3 separate regions of the Homo sapiens genome follow, and regions 1 and 2 are each linked to region 3. Evidence: fine-mapped expression QTL. A gene starts in region 3. Each other region holds a variant in brackets. All regions are shown on one strand. Distances are between the middles of the regions.

Region 1 (7,139 bases), 22 kb before region 3:
ACATTGCTCAGGTTGGTCTTGAACTCCTGAGATCAAATAATCCAGCCTTTTGGGCCTCCCAAAGTGCTGAGATTACAGTCATGAGCCAATATACCCTGCTGGATCTGTGCATTTCCAATAGAGTGTTGTTGAAATCTCCAACTATGATAATGAATTCATCGATTTCTCCTTGCAGTTCTGTTAATTTTTGCCTCACGTAGTTAAATACTCTCTTGTTAGGTGCGTGCACATTTAGGTTTGTTATGCGGAAACATAACATAGTTTCTTGGAAAGCTAATTCTTATACCATTATGCAATGCTTTTCTTCATTCCTGATAAATTTCCTTGCTTTGAGGTTTGTTCTGTTTGAAATTTGTATAGCTTCTCCTGCTTTCTTTTGTTTGTGCCAGTATGATATAATACATATATATATTCATGATCCATTTACTTTTAATTTGTGTGTCTTTATATTTAAAGTGCATTTCCTGCAGACATCATATAGTTTAATCTCTGATTTTTAATTGGTGCATTTAGATCATTGATATTAAAATGATTATTAATATAGGTGGATTAAATATCTACCATATTTCTTTCTGTTTTCTATTTGTTGCCTTTGTTCTTTGTTTCTATTTTTGTTTTTCATTCTCTTCTTTTCAGAGACTGAGTCTCATTCTGTTCATTAGGCTAGAGTGTGGTGGTATAATCATAGCTCCCTGTACCCTTGAAATCCTAGGCTCAAGTGATTCTCCTACCTGAGCCCTGAGTACCTGGTATTACGGGCATGTGCCACAAAGCCTGGCTAATTTTTATTTAATTTTTGTAGCGACAGAGTCTTTGCTACGTTGCCCAGGCTGGTCTTGAACTTCTGGCCTCAAATGATCCTCCTGCCTCAGTGTCTCAAAGGGTTGGGATTATAAGTGTAAGCTACAACACCCAGCCATGTCTTCCATTTTTTTCCTGCATTTTTAGTTTTTAACTTAGCATTTATAAAGTTCCATATTTTCTCATTCTTAGTATATCAATTATACTTTAAAAATGTGATTTTAGTGGTTACCCTAGTGTTTGCAATATACACTCACAACTAACATAAGTTTGCTTTCAAATAATACTATACCATTTCACAGGTACTGTGAGTACCTTATAATAAAAAAATCTAATTCTCTGCTTTTATCCCATGTGTCATTTCTGTTATTTATTTTATTTACATGTAAGAATACATAAGCATATAAATATATATAAAAGATGTATACATAAGCACACATAATTAAATATATTGCTACTATTGTTATTTTGAACAAACTGCCATTTGTTAGATCAATTAAGAATAAGAAAAATAGTTTTATTTTACCTTCACTTATTTTTTATATTGTTCCTTTTTCATATAATTTAGGTTTCTAACCTGTATAATTCTCTTTCCTTTTAAAATAATTGCATTTAACTTTTTTGTTTTTTGATATAAGACAAGTCTACTGGCAACAAGTTATCTCAATGTTTCTCCAAAATAGTGGTTGTTTCTCATTCACTTTGAAGAATTTTTTTGGCTAAAGAATTCTAAGTTGATAAGGTTTTTTCTCTTAATACTTTAAATATTTGTTTCCACTGTCTTCTTGCTTGCATGGTTTTTGAGAAGAATGTAAATGTCATTTTTATCTTTGTTTCTCTACATGTAGAATTTATTTTCCTCTGGATTCTCTTATGATTTCTTAAATCTTTGATAAAGGGGGTACAGGGGCATATGTGAACTCTATATTTTTAATTCAGTATTTCTGTCAACTTAAACTGATAAAAACTAAAATCTATTGATTAAGACAAATATCTTGGGAAACATCAATGTAAAGCTTGCTGATCTCTCTAGTGTTGGGGGGAATGTTGGAGAAAAATATGCCTATTTAGCTAAGGACAAACCTAGATAAATTAACTAGAGGTGTGAATTGTATGCAAGAGATTGTGTCAGAACAGGGTTCCAATAATGAACTTCATAAGAGGTTTTAGATAACCTAAGACATTTTGAAATATAACACAACTACAGGAAATTATACAATACAAATATGTAGCTTGATTAATTATTATAAGATAAACACCTTTGTTGACTCCTGATATGGCCTAGCTGTGTCTTTACCCAAATCTCATCTTGAATTGTAGTTCTCATAATCCCCACTTGTCATGGGAGGGACCCAGTGGGAGATAACTGAATCATGGAGTTGGTTACCCTCGTGCTGTTCTTGTGATAGCGAGTGAGTTTTCATGATATCTGATGGTTTTATAAGGGGCTTTTACCCCTTTGTTAGGCACTTCTGTCTCCTGCTGCCATGTGAAGAAGAACACGTTTGCTTCCTCTTCCACCATTATTGTAAGTTTCCTGAGGCCTCCCCAGCCATGTAGAATTGTGAGTCAGTTAAACTTCTTTCCTTTTTAAATTATCCAGTCTTGGGCAGTTCTTCATAGCAGTGAGGATGGACTAATACAACTGCTAACATTGTCTAAGAAAGATCCTTGTTATGTGGCTCAGAGGCCCTCCATGTATTCTTAACTATTCACTCTCCTATCCTTCCAAGAATAACACTAATTTGACCTCTACAATAATCACTTTATCACTCCAGTTTTGCCTTTTTTCCTCCAAAACAATGCCTTTTAAGTCTATTTTAATCGATAGATTTCCTCTTAATATCATTTAAAAATATTTCTTTACATTTTTAGACAGGAATCAGAATAATTTGCTATGTTGAATTTCCAGTTACTTGGATTTTGTTGATTTCATTCCTGTGGTTTAGTTGACATGAATCTCTCCAATTGAAAGGGTAACTTGAATATGGTAGCTGGAAAGTTAAAATCAATTCTTTTAACTTTGGAAAATGATTAAATTCTGGAGATAGAATAGTAAGTTCATAAGATGACAGGTCATTTGCATCCTCTAGTGAAAAGCGAAGGAATTAAATAAAAATAACATTTTGATGCTTAATGTTTCTGGCAGTATTATGTCTGTATTTAATTGTTAAAATGTTTTTCAATAATTTTTTCCAGGTTGTCTGCATTCAAAAGAGCATTCTATTAAAGCTACCTTAATTTGGCGCTTATTTTTCTTAATCATGTTTCTGACAATCATAGTGTGTGGAATGGTTGCTGCTTTAAGCGGTAAGTGAACTGTAATCTTTATTCATCTAGAGAGAATTATACTTGTAAAAAGAAGAGGAAGAATCTGAATAATTTTGTTATTCTTTACAGCTTTTAATATATTGTCTCACTAACTGAGTTACACTCCAATAACTTTTTAAGTGGCACCAAAAATTTTAATTATGTAAATAGGGTTCACATTATTCCAAGTTTAGTGAGATGATCAGAGTCTTCAGAAGGTAGAAGACAGACCACTATTCCTTAAGAATATTGATGCAAAAATTAAAAAAAATAGTAAACTGAAAAATAGTCTCTTGTCCGATCTAGGAACATGGTTAATTTTACCTCCACAACAACCTTGTTTCATGAAAAATAGCAAAACAGATGGTTTAAAGTACACAAAACTACTAAGTGGCTGTATAACATCACAGGCAGCCTGTTCTTTCTTCCTAGCTATTTGAGCATGTTCTGGCCCTTGTTTTTTTTAGCATATGTAGCCCATCTTCCTAGAAAACAAACTCCGTTTAGTGATTGTACCCTAAAAGCAATTAGCTATAAAAATTATCTTGTACTTCAAAACATGCTTGCAGTGCATCTAAT[A/AT]TAGACCAAGCGAAGACATAGAAAACTACAAAAGCACTTCCCCCAAACCTCATGCCAATCTGGATATCAACCTAAAATCTACCCCCTGTTACTACATTCTGAAGTAATTTCAGAGAGACCCTTCAAATACTGCTTACGTAACTTAAGAGTCAGCAATACTTGGAGCACTCCATATAACACTCTAAATAATTTCTATTCATTTGCAAATCTTTTGCTTATTATCTTTTGGCATTTTGAAACCACAGATAATATACTTTATACATTTATGAAGCAAAAATAATTTTTTTATTTCAGAGATTTAAGTCAACTAATTGTAACTATTTAAGAAAGAAAAAATTGGAAAGAGACAATTTCTGTACTCTGTAAGTACCTCAGTATTAATCAAGGGAATGTATTCTGAAATATAATTTAAATTTATAGCTCTTTTTTTTACAGTAAGCATATGAAATTGACACTTATGACTGTTTTCCTTTATTATCCATTATGTGTTTCTCTTCCTTTCAGCTAGCACTTTGGAAATGATTTCTTGTGTGGAGCCAATAGCTGGAGCCATCTTCTAATCTGGTCATTTTCTTTCTTTCTTTTTTTAAATGTGTTATTATGTATTACTTTATATCATTTTTATGTTTTATTTAACATTTAGATTGTTAGTTAACTATTCAAGTGTGGTATTTCCCCATTTAAATCGAGTTATTTAGATTGGCTTTAGTTATAAAAATTCCTAATAGAGCTTTGTAGTTATAGCTCTGGTCCCTAACTTTTTTTTTAAATTATACTTTAAGTTCTGGGATAAATGTGCAGAACCCGCAGGTTCGTTACATAGGTATACACGTGCCATGGTGGTTTGATGCACCTATCAACCCATCATCTATATTAGGTATTTCTCCTAATGCTATCCCTCCCGTTGCCCCCCAACCCTCAACACGCCTCAGTGTGTGATGTTCCGCTCCCTGCATCCATGTGTTCTCATTGTTCAGCTCCCACATATGAGTGAGAACCTGCAGTATTTGGTTTTCTGTTCCTGTGTTAGTTTGATGAGAATGATGGTTTCCAGTTTCATTTGTCTCCCTGCAAAGAATATGAACTCATTCTTCTTTATGGCTGTATAGTATTCCATGGTGTATATGTGCCACATTTTCTTTATCCAGTCTATCATTGATGAGCATTTGGGTTGGTTCCAAGTCTTTGCTATTGTGAATAGTGCCACAATAAACATACGAGTGCATGTGTCTTTATAGTAGAATGATTTATAATCCTTTGGGTATAGACCCAGTATTTCTGGTTATAGATCCTTGAGGAATTGCCACACTGTATTTTCCAAAATGGTTGAACTAATTTACACTCCCACCAACAGTGTAAAAGTGTTCCTATTTCTCTACATCCTCTTCAGCGTCTGTTGTTTCCTGACTTTTTAATGATTGTCATTGTAACTGGCATGAGATGGTATCTCATTGTTGTTTTGATTTGAATTTCTCTAATGATCAGTTATGATGAGCTTTTTATCATATATTTGTTGGCCACATAAATGTCTTCTTTTGTGAAGTGTCTGTTCATATCTTTTGCCCATTTTTTGATAGGGTTTTTTGTTTTATTCTTGTAAATTTTTTTAAGTTCCTTGTAGATTCTAGATATTAGCTGTTTGTCAAACGGATAGATTGCAAAATTTGTCTCCCATTCTGTAGGTTGCCTGTTCACTCTGATGATAGTTTGTTTTTTGTGTTTGTTTTTTTTTTTTTTTTTTTGTGCAGAAGCTCTTTAGTTAAATTAGATCCCGCTTGTCAATTTTTGCTTTTGTTGCAATTGCTTTTGGTGTTTTAATCATAAAACCTTTGCCCATGCCTGTGTCCTGAATGGTATTGCCTAGGTTTTGTTCTCAGGTTTTTATGGTTTTAGGTCTTATGTTTAAGTCTTTAATCCATCTTGAGCTAATTTTTGTGTAAGGTGTAAGGAAGGGGTCCAGCTTCAGTTTTCTGCATATGGCTAGCCAGTTTTCTCAACACCATTTATTAAATAGGGAATCCTTTCCCCCATTGCTTGTTTTTGTCAGGTTTGTCAAAGATCAGATGGTTGTAGATGTTGGGTGTTATTTCTGAGGCCTCTGTTCTGTCCATTGGTCAATATATCTGTTTTGGTACCAACACCATGCTGTTTTGGTTACTGTAGCCTTATAGTTTAATTTGAAGTCAGGTAGCATGATGCCTCCAGCTTAGTTCTTTTTGCTTAGGATTGTCTTGGCTATACAGGCTCTTTTTTGGTTCCATATGAAATTTAAAGTTTTTTTTTTTTTAATTCTGTGAAGAAAGTCAATGGTAGCTTGATGGGAATAGCATTCAATCTATAAATTACTTTGAGCTATATGACTATTTTCATAATATTGATTCTTCCTATCTATGAGCATGGAATGATTTTCCATTTGTTTGTGTCATCTCTTATTTCCTTGAGCAGTGATTTGTAGTTCTCCTTGAAGAGGTCCTTCACATCTCTTGTAAGTTGTATTCTTAGGTATTTTATTCTCTTAGTAGCAATTGTGAATGGGAGTTCACTCATGATTTGGCTCTCTGTTTGTCTGTTATTGGTGTATAGGAATGCTTGTGATTTTTGCACATTGATTTCGTATCCTGAGAATTTGCTGAAGTTGCTTATCAGCTTAATAAGTTTTAAGGGGATGAGACAATGGGGTTTTCTAAATATACAATTCTGTCATCTGCAAACAGAGATAATTTGACTTCCTCTCTTCCTGTTGAATACACTTTCTTTCTTTCTTTCTTTTACCTGATTGCCCTGACTAGAACTTCCAATACTATATTGAATAGGAGTGGTGAGAGAGGGCATCCTTGCCTTGTGCCAGTTTACAAAGGGAATGCTTCCAGCTTTTGGCCACTCAGTATGATATTCGCTATGAGTTTGTCATAAATAGCTTTTATTATTTTAATGTATGTTCCATCAATACCTAGTCTATTGTGTGTTTTTATCATGAAGGGGTGTTCAATTTTATCAAAGGCCTTTTCTGCATCTGTTGAGATCATCATGTGGTTTTTGTCATTGGTTCTGCTTATGTAATGGATTACATTTATTAATTTACATATATTGAACCAGACTTTCATCCCAGGGATGAAACTGACTTGATCGTGGTGGATAAGCTTTTGATGTGCTGCTGGATTCGGCTGGCCAGTATTTTATTGAGGATTTTTGCATTGATGTTCATCAGGAATATTGGCCTGAAATTTTCTTTTTTGTTGTATCTCTGCTAGGTTTTGGTATCAGGATGATGCTGGTCTCATATAATGAGTTAGGGAGAATTCCTTCTTTTTCTATTGTTTGGAATAATTTCAGAAGGAATGGTACCAGCTCCTCTTCGTACCTCTGGTAGAATTCGGCAGTGCATTTGTCTGGACATGGGCTTGTTTTGGTTGGGTAGGCTATTAATTACTGCCTCAGTTTCAGAACCT
Region 2 (7,139 bases), 440 kb after region 3:
ATATTTTTAATAACCCTTTTAAAATGTAAAAATTAGTCTTAGATCACAGCATGCACATAACAGCCCTCAGGCCAAGAGCTGAAGTTGTAGCCCTGATTTAAATGATATAGTTGGGATCAAAAAGCAGTATATGAACTAATAGAAAGAGTTATCCCCAGGATAGATCAGATCATGGCAATTGCCTCTGAATCTAAGGTTTAAGAAAATAATGCACCAGTGTCTATAAGGATTGAAGACAGAAATAGTAAGGGCGAATGGGCAATGACTCACAGGCACTATCAGCTTGGCTAAAGAAGATAGCTCTGTCATCAACTTTGAAATAGAAACTACCAGACACAAAGTCAAGAATCCATCTTTCAGTATTGAAGTACAATTTTTTTCCCCAGGGATACTCTCAGTTCAACTTATCTTTGTTCAATGATATCAGTAGCCCTAACAGAAAGAGAAGCTTAAATACCTAATTACAAAATAGTTATCTTGAACTTTTTCTTATAGCCACAATAGAGTAACAAGGACTCAATTCACCTTCCAAATTAAAACAAACAAAAGGATATACATATATAAAGCAATAGTTTTTAAAACACTGGCTATCAAGTAATCAAGGACAGTGATTCCTGAGAGATGGAAAACAAGCAAGGTGAGCTCTATAATCGCCCTAGCTTACCAAGTTTAGAATGTTTCCAGGCCACACACAGGGAAGGGGAACTGAGGATGAGGCTAGTAAACTCCATGGATTAAAGATATATAAAGCTGAAAGCCAGAGAAGAAAAAGGCAAACAGAGTTCAGAGGAGAGTACAAGAGAAGAGTAGGCTGCATCAAGAAAGAACTCAGAGATCTACAGAGGATCTTGCTTGAGGACTCAGCAGAGTTCAGATCAAAGCACAAGTGTGAGGAGCTACCAGAGGGTCCAAGGAAAGAAACATCCAAACTGATTAGAGAAAACACTTCCCAGTGCTCACACACAGCAAGGAACAGTGCCCTTTCCCAACATCAAGGCTGGAAAAGATCATAGTTCAGTGAGGCTTTCAGTAGGATATTCAGAAACTCTTGCCTTCATAGTGGGAAATAATTAAGCCCCAGAATGAGAAATTCTTTAATATTGCCTATCATAAAAACAATAACAGAAACGTCACACTGTTTCTATGAAACTTAAACATATCTCATAATAAAACTCATAGGAGCACAAACCTATTTAGTATCGACCAAGGTAAAATGAACAATGTCTGGCTTTCAATCAAAGATCAGCAGGCATGCAAAGAGTTACAAAAATATGACCCATAATGGGGAGAATAATAATCAAAACCAACTCAGAGGTTAGAATTAGAAGATGTAGACATTAAGATAATTAATGTGTTCAAAACACATTTATATATTTTAAAAGTTACATAGAGATGTAGAAGACAAAAAAAAAACACCAAAGTACACTTTTAGAAATGTAAATGACAAAAGATAAAATTAAAAATACACTGTAAGGTATTAATGGCAGATTGGACACCCAGAAGGAAAGACTAGTGAACCTGGAGATATAACAAGAGTCACTATTAAAAATGAAGCCCCGAGAGAATATAATTTTAAAAGGAAAAGAAAGAAAGGGAAGAAGAAAGAAAAGTAAAATAAAAGAAGGAAGGCAAGCAAGAAAGAAGGAAAAGAGGCCAGGCGCGGTGGCCCACGCCTGTAATCCCAGCACTTTGGGAGGCCGAGGCGGGTGGATCACGAAGTCAGGAGATCGAGACCATCCTGGCTATCTAGGTGAAATCCCATCTCTACTAATAAATACAAAAAATTAGCCGGGCGTGGTGGCGGGCACCTGTAGTACTTGGGAGGCTGAGGCAGGAGAATGGCATGAACCCGGGAGGTGGAGCTTGCAGTGAGCCGAGATCGTGCCACTGCACTCCAGCCTGGGCGACAGAGTGAGACTCTGTCTCAAAAAAAAAAAAAAGAAGGAAAAGAGAAGGAGAAAGAACAGAAAGTAATAGAAAGGAAAGAAGGCAGGGGGAAGAGAAGCGGAAAGTAAGAGAGGGGAGGGGACGGGAGGGAAAGGGCAGAGCAGAGCATTAGGTTGCTGGGAGATAATTTCTAGCGCCTAATACGCGTGTATTAAATCCCTTAACAGTGTGTGGGAGTGGGGTAGAGGTTGGAGCAGAAAACATATTTGAAAAAATAATGCTTAACATTTTCAAAGCTAATGAAAAATGTAAAACAATAGATCCAAAAGCTAAAGAACTCTGAATACAAGAAACAAACAAAAAAACTTCACCAAGGCACATCATAATAAAAAATGCATAAACCCTGTGACAAAACGAAAATAAAATATCTAACAAAAGCATAGATAATTATGTACAGAGAAACAAAGAATGATAGAATATTTGTCATAAGAAATAATACAAGTAAGAAGACTGTGGAGTAACATTTTTGAAGTATACAAAAAAATCTGTCAGCCTAGCATTCTACACCCAGTGAAAATATCATTTAAAAGTACAGATGAAATAATAATGTTTTCAGACATCTTAAATCAGAATTAATCACAAACAGAATTTCAGTAGAGAAAACATTTAAAAAATTCTTCAGGAGGCCGGGCACGGTGGCTCACACCTGTAATCCCAGCACTTTGGGAGGCCAAGGCAGGCAGATCACAAGGTCAAGAGATCGAGACCATCCTGGCTAACATGGTGAAACCCTGTCTCTACTAAAAAATACAAAAAATTAGCCAGGCATGGTGGCAGGTGCCTGTAGTCCCAGCTACTTGGGAGGCTGAGGCAGGAGAATGGCATCAACCTGGGAGGCGGAGCTTGCAGTGAGCAGAGATCGGCCACTGCACTCCAGCCTGGGCGACAGAGCGAGACTCCGTCTAAAAAAAAAAAAAAAAAAGGAGGAAAAAGAAATAGGAAATAGATCAAAGGAGACAAATTGAAAACAAATATCAAGATGACAGACTTAAGTATAATTAATCAGAATTTCATTAAATGTAAATGTTTTAAACACCCAAAAGAAATTGTTAAATGATGTAAAATAGCGAGCCCAAATGTTATGTCAGCTAAAAGGAATATACTCGGTTTAAAGACAAAAAAATAGGTTAAAAGTAAAAGGATAAAAAAAGATATATCATGCCAATATTAATCAAAGAAAAGCAGGAGTGGCTGTACTAATTTCAGACTAATAGATTTCAGAACAAACATTACTAACAGGAATAAAAAAGTTTACTTGGTTAGAGGTCAGTTCATCAAGAGAGAATGAAAATCCATAATATTTATGCCTTGATTATCAGAGCTTTAAAATATACAAAGCAAACCTGATAGAACTACAGGAGAAGTAGACAAAATCATAATTATCATCAAAGGTTAGATACTCCTTTTTCAATAATTGATATGATAATAGACAAAAAATATCAGCAAGCATATAACAG[A/T]CTTCAACCAGACTGGGGATGGTGACTCATGCCTGTAATCCCAGCACTTTGCGAGGCGAGTCAGGTGGATCACCTGAGGTCTGGAGTTCAAGACCAGTCTGGCCAACTTGACGAAACTAAGAATACAAAAATTAGAGGGGCATGGTGGTGTATGCCTGTAATCCCAGCTACTCGGGAGGCTGAGGCAGGAGAATCTCTTGAACCCAGGAGGCGGAGGTTGCAGTGAGCCAAGATCGCGCCACTGCACTCCAGCCTGGGGGACAAAAGCGAAACTCTGTCTCAAAAAACTATATATATATATAGCCGGGCATGGTGGCACATGACTGTAATCCCAGCTTCGCAGGAGGCTGAGAGAGGAGAATCGCTTGAACCCGGGAGGCGGAGGTTGCACCCGCGCCACTGCACTCCAGCCTGGCCGACAGAGACCGAGACACCTTCTCAAAACTAAATAAATAAATAAAGACTTGAATCAAATTATTGTCCGCATTTATTTGATGTACATTTTAACAACATTCCATCCAACGACAACAGATTACATATTCTTTTTAAGTGTACATGGAAAATTTGCCAAGATAGATCATATTTTTGGCCATAAAATGTCTCAATAAATTTAAGGGTTTAAGTCATTAAAAATGTTTCTTCTCACATGGAAACTAATAGTATAATGATTTCTGGAAAATTCCCAAGTATTTGGAAATTAACACATTCTAAATAATCAATGAATCAAAGAGGAAATTTGAAGGGAAATTAGAAAGTGTTTTGAACTGAATAAATGTGAAAAATTACCATACCAGAATCTGTTGTATACCACTAAAGCAATATTTAAAGGAAAGTTTAAAGCACTGCATGACTATATAAAAAAGAAGAAATGCCTCAAATTAATGAACTCAGCTTCCATATTAAGAAACAAGAAAAAGAAGAAATTAAAACCCAACTAAGTAGAAAAAAGAAACAATAGCAATCAAAGTAGAAATTAATGAAATAGGAAACAAAAATATATAGACAAAGTCAATGAAACAAAGAGCTTTTTTAGACAGCAATTTCAACTTTTATTCTAGATTCAGTGGGTACATATGCAGGTTTGTTACATGGGTAAATTTCATGATGCTGAGGTTTGTAGTGCAGATCATTCTGTCACCTAGGAAGAGAGCATAGTACCCAATAGGTAGTTTTTCAGCTGACATTTCCCTTCCTCCCTCCCTCCCCCTTCTAGTAGTTCCCAGTATCTATTGTTCTCATTATTACGTCCATGCGTACTCAATGCTTAGCTCCCACTTGTAAGTGAGTACATGCAGTATTTGGTTCACTGTTCCTATGTTAATTCACTTAGGATAATGGCCACCAGCTGCCTCCATGTTGTTGCAAACAACATGATTTCATTCTTTTTTATGGCTGTGTAGTATTCCATGGTGTATATGTACCACATTTTCCTTATACAATCCACTGTCAATGGACACCTAGGTTGATTCCATGTCTTTGCTATTGTGAATAGTGCTGTGATGAGCATACGAGTGCACGTGCTTTTTGGTAGAGTGATTTATTTTCCTTCAGATATATATCCAGAAATGAGATTTTCAGATTGAATCATAGTTCTGTTTTAAGTTCTTTCAGAAATCTCCAAACTGCTTTTTATAGTGGCTGAACTAATTTACATTCCCACCAACAGGGTATAAGCATTCTCTTTTCTCTGCAGCCTTGCCACCATCTGTTGTTTTATGACTAATAATAGCCATTCTGACTGGTGAGAGATGGTGTCTCATTGTGGTTTTAATTTGCATTTCTCTAATGATTAGTGATGATGATCATTTTTTCATATGTTTGTAGGCCGCTTGTATGTCCTCTTCTGTGAAGTGTCTGTTCATGTCCTTTGCCTCTTTTTAATGGGGTTATTTGTTTATTGCTTGCTGATTTGTTTAAGCTGCTGCTGCTGCTTCTTTTTTTTTTTTTTTTTTTTTTTGAGATGGGGTTTCGCTTTTGTTGCCCAGGCTGGAGTGCAATGGTGCAATCTCAGCTCACTGCAGTCTCTACCTCCCAGGTTCAAGTGATTCTCCTGCCTCAGCCTCCTGAGTAGCTGGGACTACAGGTGCGTGCTACCACACCTGGCTAACTTTTGTATTTTTAGTAGAGATGGGGTTTCACCATGTTGGCCAGGTTGGTCTCGAACTTCTGACCTCAGGTGATCCACCCACCTTGGCCTCCCAAATTGCTGGGATTACAGGTGTGAGCCACCACACCTGGCCTAAATTTCTTATAGATTCTGGATTATTACACCTTTGTCAGATGCATACTTTACTAACATTTTCTCGTATTCTGTAGATTGTCTAATTTCTCTGTTGATAGTTTCTTTTGCTATGCAAACCTCTTTAGTTTAATTAGGTCCTATTGTTGATTACTGTTTTTGTTGCAATTGCTTTTAAAGATTTAGCCATAAATTATCTGCCTTAGCTGATGTTGAGTAGGGTATTTCCTCGATTTATTTCTAGAATTTTATAGTTTGAGGTCTTAAGTCTTTAATCCATTTTGAATCAATTTTTATGTGTGATGAAAGGTAGGGTTTCACCAGTTTCAATCTTCTGCATATGGCTAGCCAGTATATTCCAGCACTTTTACTGAACAGGGAGTCCTTTCCTATTGGTCGTTTTTGTCAACTTTGTCAAAGACCAGATAATTGTAGGTGTGCAACTTTATTTCTGGGTTCTCTATTCTGTTCCCTCAGTCTATGTGTCTGTTTTTGTACTACTATCATGCTCTTTGGGTTATTGTAGCCTTATAGTATAGTTTGAAGTTGGGTAACATGATGCCTCCAGTTTTGCTCTTTTTGCTTTGGATTGTTTTGACTATTCAGGCTCTGTTTTGGTTCTGTATGAATCTCAGGATTGTTTTTTCTAATTCTGTGAAAAATGATACTTGTAATTTGATGGTAATAGCATTGAATCTGTACATTGCTTTGGGCAGTATGCCATTTTAACAATATTGATTCTTCCAATCCATGGGCATGACATGTTTTTCCATTTATTTGTATTGGCTCTGATTTCTTTCAGCAGTGTTTTGCAGTTCTCCTTGCAGAGATCTTTCACCTCCTTGTTTAGTGGTACTCCCAATAATCATTTTATTAGTGGTTATTATAAGTGGGATTATGCTCTTAACTTGGCTGTCAGCTAGAATGTTACTGGTGTTTAGAAATGCTACTAAGTTGTGTACATTGATTTTGTATCCTGAAATTTTGTTAACATCATTTATCAGTTTTAGGAGCATACTGGCGAAGTCTTTAGAGTTTTCTAGGTATAGAATCATGTTGTCAGTGAAGGGAGATAGTCTGACTTCTTTTCCTATTTGGATACCTTTTAAGTCTTTCTCTTGCCTGATTGCTCTGGCTAGGATTTTTGGTACTATGTTGAATAGGAGTGGTGAAAGTGGACATCCTTATCTTGTTCCAGTTCTCAAGGGAAATTTTTCCAGCTTTTGCCCATTCAATATAATGTTGTCTGTGGGTTTGTCTTAGACGACTCTTATTATTTTGAGGTTATCTTTCTTTAATGCCTAGTTTGTTGAGGTTTTTTTTTTTAACCATAAGAAGAGGTTGGATTTTACTGAAAGCTTTTTCCATGTCTGTTGAGATGGGATCATATAATTTTTATTTTAAATTCTGTTTATGTGGTGAGTCACATATATTGATTTGCATATGTCAAACCAACCTTGAATCATAGATATAGCCTACTTCATTGTGGTTAATTA
Region 3 (7,139 bases):
TTTTATTTAGGCATATTTTAATAATACTTCATGTATTGGTCAGGAAGACATTTCCTGGTTCTAAGGCTTTCGACTCAGACTAGATTACAACACTGGCTTTCCTGGTTCTCTAGCTTGCAGAAGAGAATACTAGGAAGCTTGTACTTCCTACATAGGTAAGAAGAGGAAACAATCTCTGGCTTAGAAACTATGTAACCAACCACAATTCACAAAGATTCCATAATTTCCTTGGCAGGAGGCTAAGATCTAAAGCCCAATATGATTGTACTTCTCTTATCAGTTTTCTGCAAACAAAAGAGAATAGAACTAAAATACAGCTTTGTTAAAATAATGTTGATTCATTTGCATGAAATATCAGATCACAGAAAAAACATATTTTTATAAAATATGAGCTCTGTCACACTGGCCCTCATAGACACATCCAGAGATAATGCTTTCCCTGCTGAGTATACCTTATCTCAATCAAGTTGACATATAAAATTAGCCATCACACTTCACTTGACAGTTTTAAAATTAGGTTGTTTTTTCCAAATGACAAAAAGCAGGAGCAAACTGCAAGTGCTCCTGCAACACATCTAACAAGAAAGCCTTATCTGACTTTTATGAGGTTCGGTATAATGCCCAAACTGCATATTTCAAACTCTTGCCATCAGATTCACCTAAGAAGACAAAAGATCTATTGCCTTTGAACCTACATTCCCAAAGCGTGCAACATGAACTTGCCTACATCCAAGGGGTAGGACCTTCTTACGTAGTGAATTCCCAAAGTGTTGCTGAAATTATGAACAGTGCTCTGCCTCATACTGACAAGTGAAACCTCTATCTCTGATTGCCCAAAAATGTCTAATGAAGCTATAGCATCACTACAATTTGGAATAGACACTTAATCCAGAATTGAAGAGATATAGATAAAAATGAACTGAGTGCAATGCCAAGAGATAGGATAAATATGGCCCCCTCCAAAAAAAGATCCTAAGTCCATGACAGTGGTGCTAGAGATTTCTCACAAAACTCCAAGGAGTAAAACAAGAAACTATAAAGACAGATGGAGAACCACATGTTATGGTACATCATATAAACAACGAAGAGATGGTAGTCAATTGTGTAAGAATCTCGAAGTTGTTGGGTTCAAATAAAGAGAATTATGAAATGAAATAAGTATCCAATTAACACAGGAAATAATATGAACAATGGGGTTAGGAGAACAGAGATCAATGTAAGAGATGTTTCCAAAAGTAATGATGTTGTCATGGAAGTTGGCAGATGATCAAATTATCAGGTATGTAAAACTGATCATGAAGGTGTTCCAAGGAAATTACTCTAATTGTTTCATCAATATTGAACCCAAAATTAAATCAACCCAAACATAGAAAAGGAAAAAAAAAAAGGCAAAAGGCACAGTGTAATGATGCTCTCTTTACTCCTTTGGAAGGGATTGATAAAATTGCAACTACTTCTTGTATAAAGAATCATCCATTTTATAGATGACTACAAATTCAATCCTAAACCTTCAAATACAATGAAAAGAAAGTATGTACTGAGAGCTGGAATGACTACTCACCTAGGCCAAAGTCTCACCTAGGAATGAAGCATCAGGCACACAGTGCACTGAGCATGGCTGAAGGTGCATTGACTAATCTTCTAAAACCTACTCCAGAATGAGAGAGACTGGTACAACTCCATTTGTGCTAAATTTGGAGATATAAACAATATTTTGGAGTTAAAACCTAGAAGTTTTCAAATCTACATAAAAAATCAATTTCTTTTTTTTCTTGCAAAAGCAGAAAAGATGAGAGGACATTGGCACCTGCCAAGAGTGTTGATGAAATGGGGTACTTCCCTGGCCTCTTTGCAGGAGTTGCAAAGGGGTTGGCTTGTTTACTCAGCCCACAGCTCTCAACCCCTCATGGGAGGGGAAACTCACAGGTGAGTGGGTGTAGGGATCAGGATGAGGGCTTCTGTGTGCCAGCAGGAGTAGAACTCTGTGCTGCCCCATGGCAACATCTAGGGGAGTTCCCATGACCCCTCAAGCCCCAGAGGGTGAGTGTTACAGTGTGCTCTTTTAGCTTTTCTATCCACAGATGACAAGTATTTAACAGCTCAGTGGAGGGTCAGGGTGACAGCCTTTTGGACCTGCCTTCTTGGTACCTCAGTTCTTGTTTAGCGTCCAGGAAGAATCAGGTCATGCAAACAAATTGAAGGGTAGTGAATGTGGAGGATTTTATTGAGGGATGGAAGTGGCTCTCAGCGGGATAGGGAGCTGGAAAGTGGATGGAATGGGAAGGTGGTATTCCCCTGGAGTTCAGACAAACTCTTCTCCGAGGTCCCACCATCAAGCTGTCCCTCTGAGCTCAAACTGCTTCTCTCTGACATCCGGCTGCTTCTTCTTTTCTTTCTTTCTCTGTCACTCTGCTATTCCGCTGCTCTGCTGCTCTGCCACTCTGGTGATGGGGCCTGTGGTTTTTATGGGTAGAGGATGGGGTGTGGGGTGGGCCAAAAAGCAACATGTGAGTGGGAAAGCAGGAAATGCATGTTCTCATTTTGGTCTGTGATCCCAGGCTTGAGGATGTGTGGCTCTTGCTTGGGACAGCCCTCTTCTGCCCAGTATTTCCCTGCTTCCCACCCATATCACCAACACTGCTCCTAACCCTACTCAAAAGGTACATTAAAATATAGAGGTGGAAAGTTATATGCTGCTTCTCTCAGAGCAAACCCTTTCTCTCTTATGTAAAATAACTAACTTTCCTCCACAGCATAATTTAAAAAGAAAACTAATGATGACATTAGTCAGAAATCTGTAGACATCTCTACTCCTCTAGTAACTCTGAAAACTGGGTCTGCTAATGAGTTGGTAGCATTAAATCTGAAGACTGAAAGTTTTCTATTCTGTTCCTTCTCTTTTTACCCTTACTTTAGTGGAACAGTAAATTTCAGTAAAATCAGTGAAGGTGTATCTGCCAAGGTTCCAATCAACACAGAGGAAGAGAAGACTTGTTCTATAACTAAACTAGTAGACAACCCAGAAAAATTATCTCTACTTATAATAAACAGAAATCCTAATTACTGCATCCAACTACCTGACCATCATTCATTTTTAAGAGACAGAATTTTTAACGTTCCAAAGTTCTCACCCAAAAGAGATCTGACAGTTTCTGACTGCAATCCATTCTGGAGAAGTTGCTACTAAATTGAATAGAGTAAAGTTATTGTTCCTTTAAATACAATATCTATGAATGGACAATCAAGATTTATGTCCCTTAAGGCATAAGACAGCTGTTAAATGTTGTTCCTCCATTGTACTAATCAACTTCATACTACTGGAGGATATTTGTAAAAAATATTTATATATACACACATACACACACACTCTTAAAATAATTTGTGCTAGGTTATTTATTTATTTATTTATTTATTTATTTATTTATTGAGACAAGGTCTCACTCTGTTGCTCAGGCTGGAGTGCAGTGGCATGATCATAGCTCACTGCAGCCTCAGCTTCCCAAACTCTGGCGATCCTCTCACATCAGCCTCCCAAGCAGCTGGGACCACAGGCATGTGCCATTATACCTGACTAATTTTTGAATTTTTTGTAGAGACAGAGTTACACCGTGTTGCCAAGGCTGGTCTCAAAATTTTGGGGTCAAACAATCTACCTGCCTTGGTCTTTCAAAGTGCTTGGATTATAGTTGTGAGCCACTGAGCTCAGCCTGTCCTAGGTCTTTTAATGTCAAAAGAACACTTGCCCGCATATATATATATATGTATACATATTTGTCATTTCTTTGTCTTAAAACTGGAATATCCTGCTTTAAAACTTTAAGACAAAGTGTAAATGATTTTCTTTTTTTAATGAGAAATAGTCACCTTTTGTCAATTTTATTTGCTGATTTTATTGACTTGCGTATTCTACAGTGGAGACCTCAACATATTCTATGTATTGTGTTTTAGTAGCAAGGTGAACATATGTATGATATTTTCCACCTTAATGTTACTCTTTAATTGAATACATTTATAAGTTACATTAAAGCTTATTTTATGTTGAAAGAAGGAGCTAGAAAACTAGTGATGTTAAACAATGTGTTAACATTTATTTTCAATGATGAATCATTTAGTTTACAAGACATATCTTGTATTTTCTTTAGGTAATTGCCAAATCAGAGTCAAATTTATGGTAAGTTCATAGTACTTTAATATTTTATTAATATGAAATACTTGATTTTTACATCTTTAGAATTTTAATTGCACAAGGAGAACTTCCAATAAATATTTTCTGTATATAATTATGACACTTTCTTCACAAATATTACATATTCTATGCTCCAAGGCCTTGAACAATTTCTTGTGAAAATGTTGCTGCATTGTCACAGTTATTTCACAATTTTCATATAGAGAGGAATAGGGATTAAGTTATGTTCATTTGCTTTTTTTAACTTTTAAGTTCAGAGATACATGTGCAGGATTTGTAGATTTGTTACATAGGTAAACACATGTCATGGAGATTTATTGTACAGATTATTTTATCACTCAAGTATTATGCCTAGTATCCATTATTTTTTAAATTCTCTCCCTCCTTTCACCCTCTGCTGTTTGGTAGGCCCCCGTTTTTGTTATTTCCCTCTAGGTATCTATGTGTTCTCATCATTTAGCTCTCACTTACAAGTGAGAACATGTGGTATTTGATTTTCCATTCCTGTGATAGTTTGGTAAGAATAATGGCATCTAGTTCCATATATGTCTCTGCAAAGGACATGATCTTGTTCCTTTTTATGGCTGCATAGTATTCCATGGTGTATATGTACCACATTTTCTTTATCCAGTCTATCGTTGATGGGCATTTAGGTTGATTTTGTGTCTTTGCTATTGTGAATAGTGCTGCAATGAACATATGTGTGCGTGTGTAGTTATTATAGAACAATTTATATTGCTTTGGGTATACGCCCAGTAATTGGATTGCTGGGTCGAATAGTAGTGCTGTCTCTAGGTCTTTGAGAAATTGCCATACTGTCTTCCACAATGGTTGACCTAATTTACACTCCCACCAACAACGTAAAAGCATTCCTTTTTCAACACAACCTTGCCAACATCTATTATTTTTTGACTTTTTAATAATAGCCATCTGACTGGTGTGGGATGGTGTCTCATTGTGGTTTTGATCTGCATTTCTCTAATGATCAGTGATATTGAGCTTTTTTTCATATAATTGTTGGCCACATGTATGTCTTCTTTTGAGAAATGTCTTTTCATGTCCTTTGCTTACTTTTTAATGAGGTCTTTTTTTTTTGTAAATTTGTTTAAGTTCCTTATAAGTGCTGGATATTAGATCATTATCAGATGCATGAATTACAAAAATTTTATCCCATTCTGTAGGTTGTTTACTCTGTTGATAGTTTCTCTTGCTGTGCAGAAGATCTTTAGTTTAATTAGATCCCATTTGTCAATCTTTCCTTTTCTTACAATTGCTTTTGGCATCTTCGTCATGAAATATTTGCCTGTGTCTATATCCTGAATGTTATTGCTTAGGTTTTCTTCTATGGTTTTTATAGTTTTGGGTTTTACACTAAAGTCTTTAATCCATCTTGAGTTGATTTTTGTATATGATATAAGGAAGGGTCCCAGTTTCAATTTTCTGCATATGGCTAGCCAGTTCTCCCAGCACTATTTACAGGGGAATCCTTTCCCATTGCTCATTTTTGTCAGGTTTGTCAAAGATCAGATGGTTGTAGGTGTGTGGTCTTATTTCTGAATTCTCTAATCTGTTCCATTGGTCTATGTGTCTGTTGTTGCACTGGTACCATGCTGTTTTGGTTACTGTAGCCTTGTAGTATAGTTTGAAATTGGGTAGTGTGATGCCTCTGGCTTTGCTGTTTTTGCTTAATATTATTCAGGCTATTCAGGCTCTTTTTTATTCCATATAAATTTTATTCCATATAAATTTTAAAATAGGTATTTTTCTATTGAATCTGTAAGTTGCATTGGGAAGTACGGCCATTTTCAAGATCTTGATTCTTCCTATGCATAAGCATGGAATGTTTTTCCATTTGTTTGTGTCTTCTCTGATTTCTTTGAGCAGTGGTTTGTACTTCTCCTTGAGGAAGCCCTTCACTTTTCTTGTTAGCTGTATTCCTAGGTATTTTGTTCTCTTTGTAGCAATTGTGATTTGGCTCTCTGCTTGCCTGTTGCTGGTGTGTAGGAATGCTAGTGATTTTTGCAAATTGATTTTGTAACCTGAGACTTTGCTGAAGTTGCTTCTCAGCTTAAGAAGCTTTTGGGCTGAGATGATGGGACTTTCCAAATATAGAATCATGTCATCTGCAAACAAAGACAATTTTACTTCCTCTCTTCCTCTTTGAATATGCTTTATTTCTTTCCCTTGCCTGATTGCCCAGGCCAAAACTTCTAATACTATGTTGAAAAGGTGTAGTGAGAGAGGTTATCCTTGTCTTGTGTCAGTCTTCAAGGGGAATTCTTTGAGCTTTTGCCCATTTAATATGATATTGACTGTAGATTTGTCATATATGACTCATTATTTTGATGCCTGTTCCTTAAACACCAGGTAGATTGAGAGTTTTTAACATGAAGGGATATTGAATTTTATTGAAAGCCTTTTCTGCATTTACTGAGATAAGCATGTGGTTTTTGTCTTTAGTTTTATTTATCTGATGAATTACATTTATTGGTTGGTGTATGTTGAACCAACCTTGCATCCCAAAGATGAAGCCGACTTGATCGTGGTGAATAAGCTTTTCAATGTGCTGCTGGATTCAGTTTGTCAGTATTTTGTTGAGAATTTTTGCATATGATCATCAAGGATATTGGCCTGAAGTTGTCTTTTTGTTTGTATTTCTGCCAGGTTTTGGTATCAGGATGGTGCTGCCCTCATAGAATGAGTTAGGGAGAAGTCACTTCTTTCAAGTTTCTGAAATAGTTTCAGTAGGAATGGTACCAGCTTTTCTTTATACATCTGGTTGAATTCAGCTGTGAATCCATCTGGTCCTGGGCTTTTCTGGGGAGGTTGGTAGGCTATTTATTACTGGCTCAATTTCAGAACTCATGGTTGGTCTTTCAGGGATTCAATTTCTCCCCTGGTTCCGTCTTGGGAAGGTGTATTTGTCCAGAAATTTATCCATTTCTTCTAGATT

Evidence for each region. PIP is the estimated chance that this variant, and not a neighbour inherited with it, causes the effect. A credible set is the group of variants that fine-mapping cannot tell apart.
Region 1: its variant is the best candidate, but not a certain one, in a credible set for the expression of LINC02390 in T cells (TOPMed, PIP 0.75).
Region 2: its variant is the best candidate, but not a certain one, in a credible set for the expression of LINC02390 in whole blood (GTEx, PIP 0.64).

The regions. Positions count from the first base shown.
Region 1 is chr12:9,677,923-9,685,061 of GRCh38, forward strand. CLEC2D (C-type lectin domain family 2 member D) reads left to right here. Exons shown (of 5, transcript NM_013269.6): 2 at 3,001-3,111. Among named protein-coding and RNA genes, the nearest start is that of CLEC2D, 12 kb to the left of the region's middle. The variant A/AT (reference allele first, on the strand shown) is at 3,691.
Region 2 is chr12:10,143,119-10,150,257 of GRCh38, forward strand. No RefSeq gene overlaps it. Among named protein-coding and RNA genes, the nearest start is that of CLEC7A, 16 kb to the left of the region's middle. The variant A/T (reference allele first, on the strand shown) is at 3,405.
Region 3 is chr12:9,699,987-9,707,125 of GRCh38, forward strand. It overlaps LINC02390 (long intergenic non-protein coding RNA 2390), which reads left to right and starts at 3,398. Exons shown (of 2, transcript XR_931347.3): 1 at 3,398-4,171. It also overlaps a transcript of CLECL1 not described here. RefSeq lists an enhancer at 2,186-2,235.